3 linked regions of the Homo sapiens genome follow. The protein of the gene in region 3 interacts with the protein of the main gene of each other region in a pairwise test. Each region holds a gene or a part of one and is shown on either strand. Other genes may lie near its edges.

Evidence for each region.
Region 1: the proteins of LONRF1 (region 3) and KCTD9 interact in binary tests that used the Homo sapiens proteins (3 or more experiments, as listed by UniProt).
Region 2: the proteins of LONRF1 (region 3) and FLACC1 interact in binary tests that used the Homo sapiens proteins (3 or more experiments, as listed by UniProt).

Annotation. Positions count from the first base shown.
Region 1 is NC_000008.11:25,434,422-25,441,474, reverse strand, and holds part of KCTD9 (BTB/POZ domain-containing protein KCTD9), read left to right. Parts: intron 1-801; coding exon 802-898; intron 899-1,682; exon of another isoform or gene 1,683-1,810; coding exon 1,811-1,869; intron 1,870-2,067; coding exon 2,068-2,196; intron 2,197-4,989; coding exon 4,990-5,057; intron 5,058-5,144; coding exon 5,145-5,240; intron 5,241-5,962; coding exon 5,963-6,112; intron 6,113-7,053. UniProt on the Homo sapiens protein: Substrate-specific adapter of a BCR (BTB-CUL3-RBX1) E3 ubiquitin-protein ligase complex, which mediates the ubiquitination of target proteins, leading to their degradation by the proteasome.
Region 2 is NC_000002.12:201,340,334-201,347,386, reverse strand, and holds part of FLACC1 (flagellum-associated coiled-coil domain-containing protein 1), read left to right. Parts: intron 1-711; coding exon 712-845; intron 846-3,123; coding exon 3,124-3,217; intron 3,218-4,955; coding exon 4,956-5,017; intron 5,018-7,053.
Region 3 is NC_000008.11:12,721,399-12,724,572, forward strand, and holds the end of LONRF1 (LON peptidase N-terminal domain and RING finger protein 1), read right to left. Parts: intron 1,857-3,174; coding exon 1,698-1,856; 3' UTR 508-1,697; downstream 1-507.

The DNA.
Region 1 (7,053 bases), about 13 Mb from region 3:
AATTTTGATCTATTTTGTGGGTATTTCTGGCATGTTTTCATTATCTATAAGGACAATTATTATTTTAACACTTTTGTATTAACATTTGATCAGTCTTTTTGTATTGCTCATTTTTATATGAAATTAGTTTTTCTTAACTTGAAAAGAGGGCTGACAGGACAGTTTTTCCAATTTCATGGCTCTAGAGTTCCCTTTTCTGTTGTTTTTGTGAAGTGTTTAAAATACACAGAACTCATTTTCTGATATATTCTGGTCTATTAAACCTCTTAACTTTCATCTGCAGTCCTTTTTTTTTTTTGTCTCTGTTGTCTTTGTTGCATTCAACTTGGATTATTTTCCCAGCATCTTATCAGTATGGGGCTTTGTCCATGGAAGGGAGTTTTGGCCATTTGGTTTTAAGAGTTTATTTTCAGCCCTATAAGATCTTACTGCAAACTACTTGCATCACCCACTTTTGGGATGATCTCAATCTGTTGTTTTCAGCTAGACTTATTAAGCAATGAAGTCAGTATCTATGGATGGCTTTAACATTCATGGGTTCATCATATACCCTGTTGCTTCTCTCTGCTTTTTCTTTCACAGGCGCTGAAAGCATGCTGCTCTTATAGCTGTTGGTATTGGTGGGACTACCTTATCACCTAGTGTTGTTTTAGATGCAGTCTGTGGGTTTGGGTATTGCTGTCCTAGTAGCTCTGGTATGCTTTTATTATGTGTGTATTCAGTTTAAAAAATTATGCCATTACCATCTTCCCAGAATCCCCAATCTTAATATTTGTATTATTTTCTACATGTCATCTCTAGATCCTCAGACAGATTCTAAGCCTCCTGAGGGATTGTTAGGATTCCACACAGACTGGCTGACATTAAATGTTGGAGGGCGGTACTTTACAACTACACGGTAGGTGTGTGTGTATGTGTGTTAGAAAGAGAATGCAAAAGAAGCACTGTGTACCCTTTGTTCTTCAATTTGCTGATTTCCTTAAAAGATACTCAAATGCTGCTTAAATATACTATGTGATCTGAAACCATTTTTTATAACTTTTTTTGAAGAAAAAAACATGGTTCACTCCAGAGAAAGCATAAAAGGCATCACTTCAGTGTTTTAGAACATGCTTTTGGCTGGGCGCGGTGGCTCACGCCTGTAATCCCAGCACTTTGGGAGGCCGAGGCGGGCGGATCACGAGGTCAGGAGATCGAGACCATCCCGGCTAAAATGGTGAAACCCCGTCTCTACTAAAAATACAAAAAATTAGCCGGGCGTAGTGGCGGGCGCCTGTAGTCCCAGCTACTTGGGAGGCTGAGGCAGGAGAATGGCGTGAACCCGGGAGGCGGAGCTTGCAGTGAGCCGAGATCCTGCCACTGCACTCCAGCCTGGGTGACAGAGTGAGACTCCTTCTCAAAAAAAAAAAAAAAAACATGCTTTTTAGATATTGAGTAATAAACACACAATATAAGTAAAAATTAACACTACTGAAATTTGTGGAGACTACAACTGCTTTTATTAAAGGGCAGAAAAATGTAAGTTTGGAAGATCAAGAATATTATTATGTAATAATTTGCTTACAGGATAGACAGACAAGTATTTAAAGCAAAGGAAACTAAAACAATGTTTAAATCAAAGGAAGTACCCTATTAGAAGGGATCTGATAAATGGCAACTTACTGCACGTTTTTGTTTCCCAGCGTTACTCCTACCAGGTTGTAGCATGCATCTTTTTGAGAGAGCAGCTGGGATCGAGTATACTCTTGACTTAAATATGTTTGTTTATAAAGACAAATGGAGAAATCAATTTTTTTCCCTGAATTCTTAGGAGCACTTTAGTGAATAAAGAACCTGACAGTATGCTGGCCCACATGTTTAAGGACAAAGGTGAGTGTAACACGTTGTTTTCACATTTCATCTTACCTGTTTTATATCTGTGCTGACTTTATAACTCCTGACCTTCTGTACTTACTAATTATGTCAGTTTTTAAGAGTAAAAACTTATATTTAGCAATTTTTTCCTCATACATTTCTGACTTTATTTTTTGTTTATGGGGGACTTTCTTTATTATAATGGTGACACAGGTGTCTGGGGAAATAAGCAAGATCATAGAGGAGCTTTCTTAATTGACCGAAGTCCTGAGTACTTCGAACCCATTTTGAACTACTTGCGTCATGGACAGCTCATTGTAAATGATGGCATTAATTTATTGGGTGAGTTTATTTAGACTTTCAATATAATTATGTAACTACTCACATTTTTGTAAGTTTAAGATTTTAACTTTGTTTCACTCAGTAACAGTATATTTCCATAAAGTAAAAGTATATATTTTTTCTATTTTTTAAACTAGATGTTTTCACATGTATATGAGTGATATAGGTGTAGAAATAGATTTAGGCACGGGCAGGTGGTCCTTCAGGTAGATAGTCTTTGTACATATAGCTAAATATGTAAGCCATACGCATCAACTTTATATTCTAAATTGATTTACGTTCTATCACAAGTGACTTTAAAGGATTTTGTTGTTTCCTTTTTTAAAAATTGAATTAAGAATGTAACTTGGCTCCAAGTTCTGGATATTCCCCACATTATGTGAGAACTAGAGTAGTCAAGAGGGCAAATCATGCCTTGCAATCATAATTCTCAATTAGAGTCTTGATTCTACAACTTGCTAACTTAGGGAGACTAACTTGGGGAAATTTCTCTGAGTCATATTGGAAAAATGAGTGTTAAAAGCACTCTTGACCCTATCTACATCACAAGATTTTTGTGAAGATTCACGGAGGTGATGTAGACAAAGCCCTTATAAAACACTGGTTGCATATTTGGAAGCTAATAGGCCTCCAAGTGACTGAAGTTGATGTGATGTTAGTACTTGAGGAATGGTAGGCAGTTGGCAATCTTGAGGTCACATGCCTGTCAGCTTCAGCAGATCATTGCCATGTGCAAAGTGGTCAGACGTAGAGTGCCAGAACCTTGGTTTTTAAAGAAAACCTGGGTATCTAAAATTTTATGTGACATGTTTTTGTTTTGAAAACATTACATGCTGAACACATCAGAATCAGCCTGAGGACTGCTGGCTTACAGTTTCTGTAGTGAAATACAAAACACCCATTAACTTTTAGTGTTGCTATAACAAACTTTATATTCCCTTGAACATGTACCTATTGCAAAAAAAAAAAAAAAAGATATTATTTGACCCTTTTAGCTAGTTCTATAACTTTATAACTAAATTCTTGTTGCTTTCTATTTCTCCCATTTTAATTTTTCTTCAAATTATTGATAGCATTTTGTATCCCACTTGCCTAGAAAATGTCAGAAATATATTTATCCATGCTGTGTCACACATCTGCAAACCAAGCTATTACCAAGATTTGCTAGTTTTTTCTTTTTCATGTTTCTCAACCATTTATTTGTTCAAGTGTTCAAAAAGCAGAGCTCTCTGCTGGATTCATTTTATAAAGCATTGTTTTCAGTTAGTACAGTTTCCATCCAAACTCTTTACATTGCCTACAGGTTGCCCCAAGTAATTATATGCTTTAAAACAATCTACAGTAATTTCACTAACACCAAAAAGTAGTGAGTGGCAGAGCTGGGATTCAAATCCAGATTTTTTTTTTTTTTTTTTTTTTTTTTTTTTTTTTGAGACAGGGTCTCGCTCTGTCACCCAGGCTGGAGTGCAATGGTGTGATCTCTGCTCACTGCAACCTATGCCTCCTGGGTTCAAGTGATTCTCCTGCCTCAACTTCCCAAGTAGATGGGATTACAGGCACACACCATGATGCCCAGCTAATATTTGTATTTTTTTTGTTTTGAGATGGAGTCTTGCTGTGTCACCCAGGCTGGAGTGCAGTGGCGCGATCTCGGCTCACTGTAAGGTCCGCCTCCTGGATTCACGCCATTCTCCTGCCTCAGCTTCCCGAGTAGCTGGGACTACAGGCACCTGCCACCACGCCTGGCTAATTTTTTGTATTTTTAGTAGAGACAGGGTTTCACCATGTGTTGGCCAGGCTGGTCTCGAACTCCTGACCTCAAGTGATCTACCCACCTCAGCCTCCCAAAGTGCTGGGATTACAGGTGTGAGCCCGGCCTGTCTTTTGTATTTCTATGGCTTCTCTGGATGTTTTAAAGGTTTAATTCTAAACCTAGAATTGGAAACGTATCCTGGCTGCATTCCCTAAGAGTTCTGCTTTACTTAGACCTTGGCAAATTGAGAGCGTGGCCCACAAGAACCTCTTTTATAATATGTTGAGTTTCCACCAGGGATATATATCCGAACGGAATGGCATAATCTTTGGATGCCTCTTGAAGGGGAAATGTGGACCCTGTATGCCAGAGTGGTAGCCCGATGCTGTACCTTGGATGACGTTTGTTTTACAATTGGATTGTTGACCATAGAGTTTGGTCTTCACAGAAAAGATTGTATTATTCTTCCCAAATAACTGCTTCTGGTTTTCTGTATCTACTTACCCTTATTAGCTTGTAAGTGTTTGAAGGGAGGGATTATGTCTGATACTTTCTTTGTAATTCCAGAGTTCTAAGTAGTTTTTTACTGAGTCAACAGCCAACTGATTGAGGTCTTCTCATTTGAAAGATAATGGAACCCAAATGTATTCCCACACATTCTGATGATGTTTATTAACAGATTAGAATAAGTAAATATACCAAGTCATGTAAAGGATGTACATTTTTTTTTACCAAGTTAAAGTAAATGATAAATGAAAGCTCTTTTAGTATTTACAAATATTTTAAAATTTATTCTCCTATAAGACAGATTTCTGAATTATACTTTTGACTTTTTTGTACTTTTTAAACTTTTATTCATTTCTATCATTTTCTGATTCAGTATGTAAAAGATACTTGTGGCAAACCTGTTCAGATCTGCTCCATTTAAAAAGGCAATTAAATGTTAAGATTATGTGAACTAATCGTATTTTAGTAAATTCAAAATGAATGTAATACATTCACTAAATTAGGTTGTTTCAGAATTATTTTTGTTCTGATAGGTGTGTTAGAAGAAGCAAGATTTTTTGGTATTGACTCATTGATTGAACACCTAGAAGTGGCAATAAAGGTAAGCCTGTTTTTACATTAGCCAGTGTTACATTCATTGTAGCTATCTCCCAAAAGACTCCACTAATTTCTTAATGTCTTTTTTAAGAATTCTCAACCACCGGAGGATCATTCACCAATATCCCGAAAGGAATTTGTCCGATTTTTGCTAGCAACTCCAACCAAGTCAGAACTGCGATGCCAGGTAATTAGCAGGCTTTTACATCAATTATTTCTATCAGCAAATCTATGAATAAAATTTTACATTCTTCTAGTGTTTTGGGATTATCTTGCTTTGTTTTTCTTTTACATGCAAGATCTAATTTAATTATGAGTCATAGCATTGATTTAGTTCTGAAATGGTTAACGAAAAAGAGATGCAATAATAGCCTTTTTAAATTGTCTAATTATACCTCATGCAACAGTTTATGAATAATGCATAGAAATTGCAGCAGTTTTTTAAAAGTCAGTATTTGTACATTTGCAATATATGGGCTGATCAGTGGCAGGTACTTTACTTATGTGTACTATAGCATTTCAAATTGTAAAGACCACAGTACTCATTTTTGCCTAATAAACTGTTTTGAATTACTGAATTAATAAAATAATTTAAATATAATTAGGTTTAAATACTTATTAGCAGGTATAGGACTAACAGGGATCCCTCTTTAGAAGCTTCTACACAGAAATGAATTATAGCCGGGCTATATTCTAATGTATATATTGATAGAGTTTCTTTTATGAGGAACCTATTTAAGGACACTTCTTTTATGTATCTAAGTTCCATTTTATCATGTTCTGTAATAAACTCCAAGTGACTGAACTGCCAATTGCTTCTAAAAAAAACTTGGTGGTTAGCTATAGTAATTAAATTTAATACAAACAGACGATTTAGTTATGGTGACAATTTGTGCTTTTTTATTTCAGGGTTTGAACTTCAGTGGTGCTGATCTTTCTCGTTTGGACCTTCGATACATTAACTTCAAAATGGCCAATTTAAGCCGCTGTAATCTTGCACATGCAAATCTTTGCTGTGCAAATCTTGAACGAGCTGATCTCTCTGGATCAGTGCTTGACGTAAGTATCATTTTAGGCTACAAGAGAAAATTAAATGTTTAGTCTATTGAACAGTCTCAAAGAGCCTTTGAGACAGGAATTATAACTATCTTTTACTGGAGCTTTTACTTGAAAACAGATAATTTATTATGTTGATATAAGACTAAAGGTCTGAAAGTGAAATGAATTTGGTTTTACAGGTTTGATATCCTTTATTAAACATAGACTTGAAAGGTTTAGTAACTAATAAGAAATTAAATCTTGGAATTAGTTCTTGATCTCCTCAATATACTGTACTTTATTTATCAGGACTCATATTTTCAGCTAATTGTAAAGGTAAAGCTGAAAGGAACCTTGAAATCTATTCAGCCTCATTTCTGGAATGGGAAAATGTTACTGCTCAAGAAGTATTTGACAGATATTTTGAAATAAACATGGTATGCATCAGTTTGTGGAAGTTAACATCTCAGTGGCGTTTTCCCTCTCTCTACATATATGTGTATATTTATATATATGTATATGTATGTATTTATAACAGTTATCTGTGTTTATTTGAAGTTAGAGGATATATGCAGACCAACAATGAAATCTATTAATTTTTAACAACTTTAAGTTCCTTACCACCAAGGCCCGTGTCTGTATGTCTTTTGAATTAATACCATCTTGCTTTTGGTAGTCATTTATTGAATTACTCTAATTTGGGTTTTACTCATTAGCTGCAGCTTATTTTTCCATGAAGCTGTGTATCAGGGCGAGTAACAAAATCTACCAAATATGCATTTTAGTTACTTTCACTGTCCTTTATTCTGTCTTATCATGAAGGGTCAGGTTAGTAGCAAAACAGGAAAAAGACTAACATCAAAAAAACGTTTGAAGGACCTAATCTTTAAATAGTGAAATGTCGAGAGGCATCTTTGTTTGTGTTAAGGACAAAAAAAAAAAGATGTTTGTCAAAAACGCTT
Region 2 (7,053 bases), on a different chromosome or scaffold from region 3:
AAAGATGATGGTGGCCTGGGGCCGTCAGGCAGGGGTGTGGAGAGAGGAGGGTGACTCACAGAGACATGAAGGAGGTGACAACAGCAGGGATCAAGGGGCTGCAGCATGTGCTGCGCAGCTCTCAGAGCCCCAGCCTTGCCCTGGTCCAGGCCAGCAGAGGCCCTGCCCAGGTTTCTGACTTGGCGTCTAATGGGAAAAGGAGGAGGAAATGACATTTTGTTTGCAACCGTCCTAGTCATTTTCTCATATGTTGTTTTGTTTTTCCCTCACAAAAGCCCTTTGAGAAAGAGTTATTAACCCCACTTTCTGATAAGGAAACTGAGGCACAGAGATGCTGGATGGCTACTGTCTGGTGGCAGAGCCAAGATTTACTCAGGCCTCTGTGATTCCAAAACCCGAGCAGTTGCCGCATGCCCACCTCCTCTGGGCTCTGGCCACGAGGGTGAACACAAGTCGGGGGCAGGGGCATCAGTGGCTTGGTTTGGCGCAGAGCTTGAGAGGCCCCTAGGGACACCCAGGAGCCTGCTAAGCATCAGATTTGAGTCGGAGAGATGTGAGAATGAGCTATAATGGGTGAAGGGCCCAGAAGGGCTTGGGCTGTGGAGTCCCAGGTCCCTGTTTTTAAGATGTGAGTGAGGCAATAAGAGAAGATTTGGAAAAATCTCAGCACTCCAAGTCTGCCATTTTATCTTACTTTCCCTTGATGCCTAGGAAGTGATCAACGTGTCACCTGGCTATCAACTTGTTCGGAATCGGGAACAGATTTCTGTCACCTTAGGGGATGAGATGTTTGATAGGAAAAAGCGGTGGGAATCGGAGATCCCGGACAAAGGCAGATTTTCCAGGTAATGCTGTTGCAGCAACATGCAGCTGCTTGGGGCTACTCCCACCCAGCTCAGCCCGGCCTCAGGGACAAGCCAAAGCCGCTATGCCCACACCCAGGCCACTGGTCCCTGCTCTGGAGGGGCCGCAAGGGCACCTCCCTCCTCGCCCCTGCTTCCTGATGATGCATCTCTCCACATCTGCCTCTCTGCTCTGATCCCATCCGTGAGCAGATCCAAGGGGCAGGATGAAGATTGGGAGTTATGTGATTGATCCCAAAGGATAGCAATTGTTCGTGGGGTGAGGAATAGATAGAATAGCCATAAATTAGTCTGAATTTGAGGCATGCAAATTAAGTAAAGTGAGGGTTTCTGGGTGGCTGGAGTGCACTTTTTTTTTTGAGACAGAGTCTCTCTCTGCCACCCAGGCTGGAGTTTAGTGGCACGATCTCAGCTCACTGCAACTTCTGCCTCCCAGGTTTAAGCTATTCTCACGCCTCAACCTCTTGAGTAGCTAGGATTACAGGCTTGCACCATGACGCCCGGCTAATATTTATAGCTTTAGTAGAGATGGGATTTTGCCATATTAGCCAGGCTGTTCTCAAACTCCTGACCTCAGGTAATCCTCTGGCCTCAGCCTCCCAAAGTGCTGGGATTATAGGCGTGAGCCACTGCGCCCAGCCTCTTTTTCATTATGTCCAAAAATACTACTCAGCTCATGCCCCCGGGAGATGCAGTGTGGAAGGTTCTGGCCTGACTCTAACCCATTAGCACAGCTGTCCTGTCTGTCTTCAGGCTCCACCCACTCTCTGTCCTCCAATGCCATATCAAGTATATCTCCATGTCTTTCTTTTTTCATTAACAGATGCAGATTCATCTCTACATCTTTTCATTCTACCCTTTAATCTCTTATTCATATCTTCTTCTCTGATATCCTGCCCATGTTCAGGCATCTTACTTCTTAACTGCACTACTGAATGGCTCTCCAAGTGCCTCTTCCCTCAGGCTGATTTTGCTGTAAGAATTATTTTTTCAACACACAAGTCTAAAAGACCAACAATAGAAAACACACACACACATACACACACACACACACACACACACACACACACACAATCATCTACCTATCTGCTAGTGTATTGGCAGAATTCAACCAAACCGTTAGCAGTGGTTACATCTGGGGAAGGGATTCAGGTTGAGGGTGAGTCTGAAGGCCCCTCAAGTAGAATGAGGCCATGCCATGGAGTCTCCCTGATCTGACCTGGCCCAGAGGGCCACCCAGGGGCCAGGGGCATTCACCCTGCTTATCTTGTCTTCCCACCCAGGGGCATTCAGCCTCTGCTTTCTTTTCCCTGCTTATCCACAGCCCTCTGCAGGAAGAGAATGGGTCATGCACCTATAGTCAAGCTAGCACCGACAGCCACCTCTTGGCCTCACAAGGAAGTTGTCACCAGTTGTGCACAATAAAATATGATAACCTGTGCTTGTTGTATTCCCTGGTAAAGTTGTGGGTGTTGTTTGTATTGAAGATTGTGTTCAAAAGATAGGGGCTCCCTATTATTCAACTTTCTCAAGCCTTTTCTTTCTCTTACCCTTGAACTGTCTCCTCCTGTATCTCCTCTCTTGTTTTATCAGCCCACATTCTCTCTGTGCTCAGTTAGACATGCAAAGTGGTTGGCCAAAGAGGTCAAAGCATCTTGCATTGAGGACTTCCTCTCAGCTCCACTGCACATGGCACCACCTGCTGCCTTGTCACTCTAGCCCAACCAGACAGAGCTAAATAATTTACAGATACCATGGCAGCCTTAGACCCAGAAACACAGAAAACCATGACCTGTGCTGAAAGCCACTCTCTTAAATACCCTCTTAGTCCCATCTCTGGCCCAATCCTTGTCTGTGGTTCACAGCCAGCATCAATCCTATTGCACATCTTCTAATTTCCTAATCCTCTGAACTTCGTCCTCTGTTTCAACTATCATTACCAAATCAAGGTCAAACTCTAATAAATTTCTGACATATTCTTATTTTCCTTCTATTCGGTAGGGCACCAAACCATCCTGTTCAAGTCTAGTGAGCTTACCCACAAGAGCCAGATCTGAGCCTCAACTGCCCTATAGCCAAATGCCTTCTGTAAGACCACCCCTATCCCTCCACCCCCACCCCATAATGATAGAGCAGGTGCAGAACATGGCCAGCTCTCACCAGGCCAGCTCTCACCATGCCAGAGTCAGTCATGCTCAGGGGCCTGAATGGCATGGAATGGTAAGCTTTGTGGATGATAGAAGAATTACTTCTCCTACAGGACCAACATCATTTCTGACCTAGAAGAGCAAATCTCAGAGCTGACAGCAATAATTGAACAAATGAACAGAGACCACCAGTCTGCCCAGAAATTGGTGAGTGACCTTACATTAGCTAACATCTTCATGGACAAAATAAAATTAATATTTTTGAATCACCTATGTGCCAGGCAAAATGCCAAGCACTTTACTCATATGAGCCATGTTGTCCAGGTGACAGGACCCTAAAGATTGGACTGTGTCACTCAGTAGTATTTCTCTGACATCTTTATCTGTAATTCCAAGAACTCAAGTTCTTCCACAAAGCTTAACTCATTTATTTCCAGGAGCTCTCCAAGTACCTCTGTGTGTGTGCAGTGACACTGTCCTCCTCACACTAGGGTGCACTTGTTGTTTTCTGTCTGGCCTTTGTGGTGCAATTAAGTTTCAGAGCTTGTGAGGCTCTCACTAACGACACCAGCGCACTTAATGTGCAGGGCTTACTCTCTGACTGTTAAAGCTGCCCACACATCAGAATCTGCAGATGTCATTTGACACTCTTTGTGATTCCTGAGGATTTCAGTGACACCTTTTTAGCTTTTACCATCTGTTTCATCTGGTGACTTCTTCCTCACCTCAAACAGGTGTGCCTGTTGGCCTGGCCTGGAGTGACAGCCAGTGCTGTGTTCAGAAATATCCTCCCCAGGGTTGTTGAACCCCACCCCATCTGTGAAGTTTTACTTCCCAGAAGGCAGCCTCTCACCCTCTGATATGCCCCAGATGTGTCTGAATCCTACAGTGACCCAGCTTATGACTCAGGCTGGGTCCTATCCTGAGACCACCCTCCTCCGCCTGCCAACTATTGATTCATTACCTTATTTATCTGAAAACACTGCCAGGTTTATGGTCTCCTTCTATAGAAAGGAAAATGAGACTCAGGGAAGTTAAACAATTTGCATACAATCTCTCAACTGAACAGTGGTAGATCATTGGACAAAATGAACATTTTAAGTCATAGGCACAGATCCTGCTGAAGACATATTTAGAGACTATTTCCATGAAGGGATCCTAGACTGTGTTACTGAAAATACTGCCACTTGTGAAGATGCTATTTGTTGTGTGGCCCTGTGGAAGGGAGTAGTGTTGGCTGACGCTGGGCTGTTCTCTGTCTGTCAGAGTGGCTCTGCTGACCACTTGTTGTGTGACACAGTCCCTGGCTTCTCCCCAGTAGTCAGAGAGGTACAAGGACAAGCCCTAAACCCTTGTCCTAGCTGACAGTGGTCACCGACTGATTTGAAGTATTGATTTATCCTGAGACACTGGCCAGAGGATCTGACATGTTAGAATGAAGTATCACCTGAAAGTGAGCAAATCCTGCCTGCTAGAATGGAACTATACTGTCAACAAGGATTAACACTAGATTTTAAGTTCCTCGAAGGCAAGATCTGAGTCTTAGTCCTCCTTGGCTCTTCCAAGCCAAGCCTTTTGTTCAATAAATGATTGCTCAATTGGATTACATATCCAAAAATCTGAAGGCCATGATGTAACAGAAATGACGATCTAGCACAGGAGACCAGACCTACCCAAAAAAAATAGTCAGTGAAAGAGATGCACCAACATTATGAACTGAATAAGTACAAAACAACATAGAGCAAGGCACAAATTGTTCTGTTCCCTTATTAATAATGTGCTCTCTGGCACTGCAGAGCACAGTGGAAGAGGGGTGGGAAGGGGGCTGTGCCCCATGAATTGGAAGGCGGCTGTGCCCCATAAATTGGAAGGCTTTTCAGAAGGTGCAGATCAGAATGGGACAGGGTCCTCAGTCCTGTGTTGTAGATGCTGATTTTGTTTCCAGCTCTCCAGTGAAATGGATCTCCGCTGTGCTGAGATGAAACAGAACTTTGAAAACAAGAACAGGTACACTTTCTGGCATGGACCCTTGTGTGTGTTGATGGCTCTAAGGGTCCCGCATCCTTTGCAGGATTTTAGTTCACTGGGACTTCAAATAGTTCTAAATGGAGTTGGGGGATGAAGGGTGGGGGAGATGAACAAGACACGTGTCTTTGAAGAGCAGAATGGCTTGATTCAAAGCCACTAAAATAAACCACAAAGAAAGTTATTACTGCTTTTACATTTTATCATCCAATCCTTTCATTTCAATTATAATCTCCCTTTTTGTTGGTTACTGAGAAGAGTCATTTTTGTTCTCTATGAGATTTCTGTGATAAATAACTGTTGTTCTCAGCCAAGGCTCCTCCTCCACCATCTCCTCGTTCTTCTCTTCCTCCTCCTCTTTTTCTTTGTCTCACCTCTACTCTCCCTGGCTGCTAGGTCAGGGCCTCAGCAAAATAGGAAGAAAGTATAAGAGAATCAGGAGCAAAGTCAAATCAAGAGAAAATTGAAAGGAGTCCAAATACAGAAAGACAGAGAATAGAACATGGTTACCATGGTCCGGTAGGAGGAAGAAAATGGGGAGATATTGATCAAATCATACAATGTTGCAAATATGTAGGGTGAACAAGTTTATATTGTTTACAAAGATATAATGTAAAAAATGAGAGCTATAGTTAATAATAATGTATGATATTAAGAACTGTTGCTAAATGAGTTTATAGCTGTTCTCACCACAGAGGGAAAATGGTTAACTAAGTGAAATGATGGATATGTTAATTTGTTCCACTCTAGTAAACTTTTTACTATATGTATATAGTAATCTCCACTATTATAACCATTTGTGTATATATATATATACATACATATAAACTCTACCTATATATATATGCTTGTGTAGTGTGAGTGTATATATATAGTAAAAATTATGTGTAATATATATAGTATAATGGTTACTATAGTAGAGATGCATATATATATGATTTATATATATATATATATATGAATCTTATGACATCATGTTGTATACCTCAAATATACACAATAAAATTTATTTTTAAAGGAGTTTTCTTATGTGTATGGGTGAAGATAATCCTACATCCCCTTTCAGGCTACTTGCTGCACACCAGAGCAGCCTTAGAAATCCTGGTGGAGAGATAGCACTCTTAGTTGAGTCATAGCCATTTACACATTTATTTATCTATAGACTTTATCTGTTAGAGCAGTTTTAGGTTTACAGCAAAAATGAGGAGAAAGTACAGAGAGTTCCTGTGCACCTGCTCCTAATCAAATTCAATCAAATTAAACTCAAAGATGAGTACACCAAGACACATAATAATCAAACTATCAAAAATCAAAGACAAAGCAAAAATTCTGAGAGCATCAGAAGGTAAGAAACACGTCACATACAAAGGAGTGCCAATACAATTGTAATTTCTTAACAGAAACCCTGCAGGCCAGGAGTCAGTGTGATGATGTATTAAAAGTGCTGAAGGAAAAAACTGCCTACCAAGAATACCTTAGCAAAGCTGTCTTCCCCAGTTGAGGGAGAAATAGAAACTTTCCCAAACAAAAATTAAGGGAGTTCATTACCACTATGCCTGCCTTACAGAAATTGCAAAAGGAAGTTTTAAAAACGGAAACAGAAAGCTGCTAATAACATGAAACATATGAATGCACAACACTCAATGGTATAAGCAAAATAGAGCCATACTCAGAATACTTTAGGACTGTGATGATGGGATGTAAGACAATTTTATCCCAATATGAGAGTAAAAACACAAAACTATTAATAACAACTATAGCTAAAATAAATTTTCAATGATAAATCATATTATAAAATGATATCAATTCTGACATCAAAAACAAAATGTTAGGGAGGGAGTAAAACTGTTGAGTTATTGCTTGCAACTAAACTTGTTGTCAGCTTGAAATAGCTTATTACAAGAACAAGATATTCTAACTAAGTGTCATGGTAACCACAAAGATAAAAATCTTTAGCAGTAGCACAACACAAAAATAGAAATGATTCAAAGCATACACTACAAAAAACATCAAACCAC
Region 3 (3,174 bases):
TTTCTGGCTGGCAAAGTGCCACCCCAAGGATCCTGTGACAGGAAAATCACTTGAGCCCAGGAGTTTGAGGCTGCAGCAAGTTATGATTGTGCTACTGCATTCCAGCCTTGGCCATAGAGCAAGATCCTGTCTCTAAAAAAAAAAAGATGATTGACTGACATTTGCAAAATCCTAGCTGAGGAACTGGGGGCAGAAACAGTCCAGTCTGTGTAACCAAGAGAAGTCTCAAATGGTGAGGCATCAAAGAAAGAATTTTAGCCTTACCCTAAAGGGACATGGATTTTTAAAAGGTTGAAAAATAGTGCTTTAGGGATGGTTCCGAGGCCTAAACCCTCAATAAATTGCTTTTTTTTTCTCAAAAAATAAAAATGGCCAAAGTTTTTGGAAACCATAGCATATATCTAATGCCACCAAACCATAAGCAAAACTCATCTGTTCTTTAACATATGCAGTTTGGTTCTTCTACTGACTTGTTTTTATAACACTGACCTACAATTTAAGAAAAAGTATTAGGAATTTAGCTTTTATTCAAAATTAAATAAGCAAAAGCAAAAATTTTAAGAAACTTTTACAAATTACTTACATAAAAGAAAGTTAATAAGGACAGTCACAAATTTGCAACAAATAATTACAAAAGTTTCTAGGGCAGCATGAATATAAACCATGTTGCAGCATGGTGATCTAACTGTGATATGAATAAGGCATAACTAACATTTGCACCGAGACCAGAATTAAAAACAAAAACAAACTTTAAAAGCTTAGTTCTATATTAAACTTCTTCTCTTTTCCCAGATCCTTAATGGGTTTATACTATGCATTTTTTTTTAAAACAAACACATCATGTCAAACTATAAATTACACAAATGGGCAGTTAATGTGAAAAGCCCCCTAAAATGTACAAACTAACTGGTACTGAATTGAGTTCTCCCTTTACCTTTATGTACAATTAAATGTAAACCATATTTTCACAGTTTTGAGTGTTTTATGAATAGATGCACAGTACCATGTCAGGTTTACAATTGTTCCTGAAAACTGGCTCTAGGTTCTGCATCCAATGCCTGTCGGCCACTGTGATGCAAGTATTTACATAAATAAGAAACTGTGTCATAGTCAATGGTCAAGACAGTTCAGCAAGAGCAGTGTTTCCAACAAAGAATGATCCTCAACACGATATTTTACATACTTGTGCAAATATAAGCATTAGGACAGATATATCTGAGGCAAATTCAATTTGCAAAAACTTGTATCGCTACTCTTGTAAACTTGGGCAATAAATGACCCTCGGCAAGTTCTGCTCTCTATGGCTTTTTTGTTTGTTTGTTTTAAAATTTTAAAGCCAGAGAAAATACACACACACTACCCAACCCCCACAAGCACACACGCACGCACACACACACACACACTCTCTCACAGACATAAAGAGTTCTTATTTCATTTTAGAGTATGGTACATAGTGCAACTTCACAATGTAGAGGTTCGACACACATTCAATGCGTGTTTTTCTGTGCAAGTTCTTAGTGGTCTAAATCCTAGTTGAAGGTATTCATTTGCAGAACCACATGATTCAGGAGGTCGAAGGAAAAAGAAAAGTTTCATTAAATTTCTGAAACCAGCACTAGATGTGCAAAGGCAGCAGACAATCTGGCCATCAATGCAGCCAGATTAGGGTCACTTTAAAGGGAGATCCAAAGAGTTAGTTACTTAGATTGGTCTCTAGAAAAATAGGTCAGTATATGCTGTATCTTGGTCAACCGTTCTTTCAAAGACTTCATTGACAAAACCGACAGCTGGTATCGTGGGTCTACAGGGAGAACTGCAAGAAGCCACCAACACCATGCAGGTCCATTAGGGGCTGCCTAAAAACAATGGACAGTTTATAGCATTAATAAAACAAGGATTTATGTAACAACAGTAGCAAACCACCAAAAAATTACTATTTATTGAGCACTTGTACTATGTGCCAGGTGCTATCTCCAATGTCCTTAACAATTATGCAAAGTATAAAATGGGAGAAACTGAAGCTCAGCAATGTAATGCAAATTGTCCAAGATCTCTTGGCTCTTATGTGGCAGAGCCGAGATTCAAATCTAGACCTGACTCCCCACAGTCAACACACGCTCTTTCCTCCTATTACACTAGCAAGGCTTCTCGACCTCAGGCTACTGACACTTTGAGCCAGATAATTCTTTGTTGCATGTGGCTGTCCTATGCACTAGAGCACATTCAGCAGCACCTCTGATCTCTATCCACCAGATGCCAGTAGCACCTTCCCATCCAGCTGTGACAGCCAAAAATGTCTCCAGGTAATGCCAAATATCCTGTGGGGGCAACATGCCCCTAGTTGACAGCCACTTTCTTGAGCTATAGATTTAAAGCATTAAGAAATGTTAATTGAGATTTAAAATTTCCTCAAAGTATTATGGAACCCTTGGAAAGACAGAAGAAAAAGGCCCCAGCTTCCAATGTTGTTCAAAAAAGAAACATATCTCCAGTGAAAAGGTCCTGGTAATGCTGTGAGGGCTGACTATTGGCTATTGAAACAACTAGAAATTTCCATAAAAGGACTTGTAAGCCACCTTCACTGAACCTTAAATTGCTATTTATCGGACTTAAAATATAAAGCTTCAGAATGACAAAAGGAGCTACGACATCAGTGCTGATCTCAGTAGGCCCCTCTAGAATCAGATTCGGTTTCTATATTTGTGTATTGTCCGCTGTCAACTAAGCATTGCTACCTCTTCATCTGCATTCCACAGACATTACAAACTGTCTTCTAAAATCCCCTCTGCCATAGGGTTCCAGGTTAGAGTTGGCCGATGAAAGGCACTCTTGTTGGGTGTGGAAGCTGGAAGAGAAGCCATTATCCTCTGAAGATTGTTGCAAAGTGTGGGCAGGAACTTTCCAGAGAGCTCCTGGAAACCCCTTTCTCCACTGCTGTAGACTGAGACAGTGGTGCAGACTTGCTGGGATTCCTAAGAATTATAGCCACTTCCCCACTAGTTCTTCAGAAGCACGCTGTTGGCTGTTTCTGATGCAGGATCTCTGGTGGCAGATTCCCTGACTTCTGTAGGTGACATCCCTGACCTTCACTCCCACAGCTCTCCCAACTACTATACAAAGTCTACATCCTACGTCAAACCCTTCATTCTGGGAAAATGACGGGTGGTTGCTTTT